2 linked regions of the Homo sapiens genome follow. The protein of the gene in region 1 purifies or fractionates together with the protein of each later gene. This does not show direct contact. Each region holds a gene or a part of one and is shown in the gene's direction. Other genes may lie near its edges.

Evidence for each region.
Region 2: the proteins of CCDC71 (region 1) and MAP1A purify together in Homo sapiens (affinity purification with mass spectrometry; one large-scale study listed by BioGRID and IntAct). This does not show direct contact.

What each region holds. Positions count from the first base shown.
Region 1 is NC_000003.12:49,163,532-49,167,789, reverse strand, and holds the start of CCDC71 (coiled-coil domain-containing protein 71), read left to right. Parts: upstream 1-1,458; 5' UTR 1,459-1,523; intron 1,524-3,529; 5' UTR 3,530-3,581; coding exon 3,582-4,258.
Region 2 is NC_000015.10:43,529,860-43,532,111, forward strand, and holds the end of MAP1A (microtubule-associated protein 1A), read left to right. Parts: coding exon 1-11; intron 12-209; coding exon 210-365; 3' UTR 366-1,752; downstream 1,753-2,252. UniProt on the Homo sapiens protein: Structural protein involved in the filamentous cross-bridging between microtubules and other skeletal elements.

The sequences.
Region 1 (4,258 bases):
ACCAAGGTGGGGCTTCCTGACTGCACCCCATGAGATCCTGGCCCCTGGGACCCTACTCTTGCTTTCTCTCCACCAGGAAAAAAAGGCTAGAAGCACTGACCCCAGAGGAACAGGAGATTTTGCAGTTCCTGCTAGATACCTTGGCTATACTTAAAAGCAGCGAGGACCTCACCATTAGTGCTGAGGCCCTGGGAAGCTAAGAGGCACCAGATGAGGCCTATGGCACTGCTGGGTGGACTAGGCACTTGTCTTTAGGAGTGCCTGGACCCCTCTGTATAAGCAGGGAAAATACAGAGCAACCAGAGGATCCTGGTTGGAAAAAGGGCAGGAAAAAGGGCTAGTACCCAGTCCCTAAATGAAGCATCCCGCCACCCTCCTGTGATTGCCAATAGGCTTCCACCTGACCCCAACTACCAAATAAGGCACCACTGCAAGGGTCAGAGTCCAAGAGTTGTGGCAATATTTCTGCCTCCTGGCTCAGGCTCTGACCCTAGTGCAAATGCCCCCACTACCTCATCCATGAAACCAGGGCTCCCAGGATGGTTCCCAACCTGGACTTGCAAACCTCTGACTAATGGGACCTTTGGTCAGAGCTGTGGAGACCACTCTGACCTCTCACTGAAGTCACAGACCCCTAGGGTTGATTTTGACCTGTGTCCTATAACCACCACCCCGTACTAGCCCAAGAGCATGGATAAAAAGACTGAGGTCCCAGACTCCTAGGCAAAAGGAAAGGGGTTCTGGGCAGTGTTAAGACTGGAAGCAGGACTTCCTTCCATTGAGGGGCTGAGGCTGGGCCAGTGACTATACCTGCCCCCACCTGCCTGAGCAAGTATACTCAGGCCCACAGTGGTATACTGGAGCCCCCAGACTCCATGTGCGCTTGGGCTTGCGTGCACCACTTGTGATCACGTGCACACCAGCCTTTCATGCCATGTGCCACAGGCCCTATTCTCAGGAAGAGAGGAAGGCCTGCTGTCCTCGGAGAAGATACCCTTACTGCAAAACAAAGGAGATCACCTGAGACTCCCTGTCAGGAGGCACTCCTCTTTCACCCTCTGGTCAGGTGTCTGGGACTGAAGTGGGCATTGTCAGTGGCTAAAGATAGATCAGAGGGTGGAAGATGGCCTGAACCTTGTCAGGAGCCCCTCCCAGATGTCAATGCACCACTAGCTCCCCTCAGAAAAGGTGTCAGATGACCCCTAATCCAGTCTTGGCCGGGCTCTAGTGAGTCCTTGCCTGGGGCCGCGTCAGAGGGCACCTCTGTTCTTCAGACTTCTGCACAGGGCCGAACGGGTTTGGAGCAGTCACCGCGGCCACCACCTCCAGGCAGTCCTCCTTGGTACCCAATCTGCTCCGCCCCCAGACTTTGTGGGGAAATGGGGTCTCAGGGGTCAAGGGTCGGTAGGGCGGGCTGGGTCCCGGAAGCGGAAGCGCAGTGCACTTCCGGCGCGCAGCGGGCGGCCATGTTGGAGCAGCGGAGGCGGCGCAGAGGCGCGTCTTGGGTCCCCGCGGCGGCGCCGGTAGGTTGGAGCCGCGGGCCTAGCCGCGCCGCGGAGGGGCGGCCCGCGAGGCGGCAGGGCGGACGGGCAAGCGGCCAACTCTTCCCGGACCCGCGTCCTCCGCCGGCCTGGCCGAGACCCCCCACCCCACCCCCACCCCGCGCCCAGCGACCCCACCCTGGGGCTGTGCGGTCCCGGTAGGGCTAGCACCGTTCACCCTGTACATTTCGCTGCCTCAGTGACCCCCGCCTCACGGCTTGGGCCCTAAGGACGTGCATTCCCAGCCTGAGGGCCCCGATCTGCCCCCTCCCCCGGTCTGCCTGTGTGGCGCCTCTCTCACGCCCTATCTTCCGTCAACTTCTCCTGCCTTCCCCGGGGGCACGTGTGAAGGGAAGTCGGAGGCCGGGCAGGAGCCTCTGTTTCCGAAGCTTCTCGAAAGCCCAGAAAACCCCTCCCAAGAGCCCAGCCTAACCTGGGTGGAAGAGCCCCCAGGTCACCCCAAATATTTGCGCTGGGGCGCGTGTGAGGGTGGGAAATAGGTCCCTCTCTCTTCTACAGTTCACAGCTCTGGGAACTACATCCCTTCAAAAAACATTAATAAAGAACTAAAGTCATGTGCAAGGATTGTGCTTGGAGAACGGTCTCTGGGGAGGGGAAGTGCCCAAGACACCTGAGGATCCAAGAATGTTTCCAAACAAAGAGCCCTAGGGCATTTCCTCCAGGGTATTCTGAAGACTTCATCTGCTGCATTAGAGCGGTGGGAAGAAACTACACAGACGGGCCTCATGGCCCGAGGGACCTGCCTGATCCTGGCTGATCTTTTAATGCTCTGGTGCAGCTGGGGAGCTGCCTCTTGCTTCTGGGAACCCTCAGTGTTGGGTTGGGTATTAGATGTTAGTTATGATTGATGTCCACAGCTTCTTTAAAGAAGTCTGGGAGTAGTTAGGTGTTCTCAGTCACCTCCATCTGGGCTGTACTGAGGTCTGTGGCCCTCCAAGTCTTAGGTAGGACAGTGCATACCGCTAATGTCCCCTTGACTCACCATCCTACTTGCAGCCTTTGGCTCCCATTGTCCTTAAACTTTGGGATCTTGGTCTGGCTTCCTGGTCCCTGGTCTGCCTGGTTGCCTAGAGAGATGTCATTGGCACCTGCTACTCATCAGCTTTTTAGTTTCTGTTGAAGAAAAGTCCGACTCTTGATTAGGTCTCCATGCCTCTGGAGCTAGAAAATGGGTTGCTGAGTACCCTGTCTAGAGACTGAAAACAGAACTTCTGGTGGGCAGGGAGATTCCCCCACCCCACTCCAGCTCCACACATGAACAGCAGCAGCTGGAGAAACAGATGGGCATGGACAGTGGGTGTAAGTCTGGGCCCTTTGGCTAACATTCAGGGTTCTTTGTTGCTCTATCCTCGCCTGTTTTTTCACCTAGATCCCAGATCCCACACCAAGTATGCCTTAACCCTTTCTCACTTTGGAGCCATTGCATTAGCTATTCCCCTTTTTGTTCCATTTCCATCTAATCATTTTTCATTCATCACTCATATCCTAGCTAGGTGTTGTCTCTCCCAGGAATCCTTTCCTGACCCATTGGCAAACTGAGCTGAATGCCAGCATTCACTCCCAAGAATCTTAACAGTGTCTTTTTCTGGCCTTCTAACCTAGGTTCCTTGAGGACAGGGATATTGCCTGTATTCCCAGAGCTGAGTAATTCTAGGTTTCTGGCTTCAGAAAATACAGAGTTGAATTAAAATGTACCAGGCTCAAATCTTTTCAGGGACCCGGCAGCAGGTTGGATGGCTCTGAGGTATTTCTGAGCATGTATCTTGAAGAAACTCCCTGATCCTTAGCCTCTCCTCCCACCCCAGCATGGTAGAGGGTCAGGAGACCAGGGTTTTACACCAGGAAGTGTCTCACTCTGGCCAGATTCCTCAGTGTCATGGAGATTGGGGCACTGATTGACTTGTCTATGTGTTCTGGCCCCTTGTCTTAGTGCCATTCTTATTGACTCTTTTCCTCTTGTCTTGGAGGTGCCAAGCGCTGGTTTGCGGATACCCAGGCAGATCTGCAGTGCCTAATGCCATGAGTGTGGTGGTTCAGCATGTGGAGGAAAAAGCTGTGCACTCCTGGTCGCGCATCTCCACGGCAGGGAAGAAGGCCCTGGAAGAGGCACTGCTTGTCTTTAACCCAATGAGCCAGGATCTCAGTGCCACAGAGGCCCAGCTTGTGGCCTTCCTGCAGGGCCTGCGAGATGATGGCTTCCAACCTACCATCCTGCGCAGTGGTGATGTCTATGGCTATAGTTCATGCACAGCTAATCCCCCAAGCCAGACGAAACTGCAAGCTCGTGCCCCTAACCCAACTGCCACATCACCTCCAGCCAGTGCTCCCCGAACTGCCATGCGGTTGCCTGCAGGTCGGGCCACACTGCTTCCCATGCCGCTATCTGGCAGACTGGCCAAAGCATCCACACCAGCCCTTGCCAAGCATGCTACCACCAACCTGCTGCTGAGCTCTCTGAAGCAATCAAGTGCCAGCCATGCCCGGGGTGCAGCAGTGGGCTTCCCCACCCACCTTTATCCAGGTGTCTACCCTGCCATGCGGCTCTCTGTTGTCCTTGAGGCCCTGGTTCCACTTAAGACTCCCATGCCCTGCTTGGGTGCCAAGCACAAGGCACAGTCACTGCAGCTCTCACTTGCAGACTCTCCTCTGAAACTGCGGAAAAGTTCAGGGAAGGGTCCGGGGAACCCTCGGCCCAA
Region 2 (2,252 bases), on another chromosome or scaffold:
AGAATCTTCAGGTGAGTAGCAAAGGACACCAAGGAAGTAGTCTGGTCAACGCTCACTCAGAGGCAGTAGTGGAACACAGTCCCTATTTATTAAAGGATGGGCCTTTTCTAAGGGCAGCAGAGCTGCTTCTGAGACCATGAGGTGCCCCTTCCCCCTCACCTACCTTCCCTTTATGTTCTCACATCAGACATATCTTATCTCCCTTCTAGGTGACTCTGATCCCTACTCATGACACGGAGGTGACTCGTGAGTGGTACCAACAAACTCATGAGCAGCAGCAACAACTGAATGTCCTGGTCCTGGCTAGCAGCAGCACCGTGGTGATGCAGGATGAGTCCTTCCCTGCCTGCAAGATTGAGTTCTGAAAGAGCCGCCCTCCCTTCCCCAAGGATCCACTCCCCCAGCTCCTTTAGAGAATGGCTACTGCTGAGTCCTTTGGGGTTGAGGGAGATGGGAGCTAGGGGGAGGGGAGGGAGATGTCTTGTTGTGGGGACTTGGGCTGGGCTAAATGGGAGGGGTTGTCCCTCCCCATCATCCATTCCTGTGAGGTGTCTCAAACCAAAGTTAACAGGGAGAGGATGGGGGAGGGGACAAATTAGAATAGGATAGCATCTGATGCCTGAGAACCCTCTCCTAGCACTGTCAAATGCTGGTATTGAATGGGGACTGAGGATGGGTCTCAGAGAGCAACCTCCTCCCTCGTAGAGGGAGATTATATCCCCAACTCCAGGGACCTCTTTATCTCAATCTATTTATTTGGCATCCTGGGAGGGATTTCCAATAGTAATTTATGTGACCTGGGGCAGGATACCGTCAGTGAGGTGCCCAGAGCTGCACCCTTTCCTCCATTTCCCATCCCCCATCTCCTCAACCACCAGGGTCTGAGTTCTAGCAGGGTCCTGGGGGTATCCCACTGCTATACTGTTCTACTGCTTCCCTCAGTATCTGAATGTCTCAATTTAAAACTTGAAGCTCTTTAGACCAATAGACTGGTGAGAGGAGAAAGGAGCTTATCCCCCAGACCCTGCTTTATACCATTCACATCCCAGGGCTGTGTCCAGACAGCACAAAACGGCAAGGAGAGCCCAAGCCCCAATGCCAGAATTCTTCCAAACTCCCTGACTCTTTGAAGTTTTTACTCACCCCATTTCAATTATCCTGATCCCTTCTCATCCCCTGCTTGGCTTCTCTGCATGTGGTCATCTGCTGTGGCTTGGTGTTTAATGGGTTAAAAATAAGCCACTGCCTGACATCCCAACATTTGACACCCCAGCAATGTGTGACTCCCCCAACATTCCACTATGCCATCCTGCAGCTGAAATGGGAACACTGGCTGCCTCTCCAAACCCGCTCTTGGACAGAGGATCTGGGAGGTGGAAGCCAGGCCAGAGGACTTGGGGAAAATGAGATGGAGGAAGGAAAAAGGGAGAAGCTGAGCCACAGCTTAACTCCTACAGAGTGAAATGAAAACGGGCTGAAAATACCACCCCAGGAGAGGACCTCGCCCCAAGCAAGCCAGTGAGCAGCCCTGCCAGACTACTGCCAGACTGAGAAACCCAGAAGCTGGTAGTCATGTGGGCTTGCCTTCTCTGCCAAACGACTGGGAAACCAAAATGAGCCCACCTTGTGTTCTTCCTAGCTCCACCCTCCCCGTGCTGCTGTGTTCTGCTCCTCCCCACGCTTCCCTGCTATAGTTCCCAGCTGCTGTAACGGAGCCACCTCCAACTCTAACAATAAACCAAGTTCATTGCAGATAGTGTAGTGCTGCTTAGGCTTTTTCTGACTCCATACATGCTTAGTTACTGGGCCCTGGCTTCTACCTCTCTGCTTCAACCAGTATTGAATTTATCTTGGAAGACTCCAATGCTTTTGATTACTGGAAACACTTGTGCCTGAGTATGAAGAATAGGAGCCTAGGGTGGATACATACATCTGGTCTGGGGGAGGGAAGAGGGGCAGAAGGCCTCCTGGGAAGGGGATATGCATTCCGTGGGGTCAAGAGTTGAGGACCAAATAACCAGGATCAGCTACCCTGGACAGCCTCTTGGGCTAAAGGGGTAAAAAGCTGAAGGACCCTAAGAGATCCAGAGCCTAATGAGGTTGGAAACAACTCTCCTTGTGCAGTCAGGATTTCCATGGAGTAAAACGGTCGACTTTCCTCCTCCATGGAAACCCTTTATAGTCCTAAGTATGTCAGAAGTGGCCAGGTTATGAATGTGTATATTTGGGGAGGGGCATATTCTAGCCCTCCC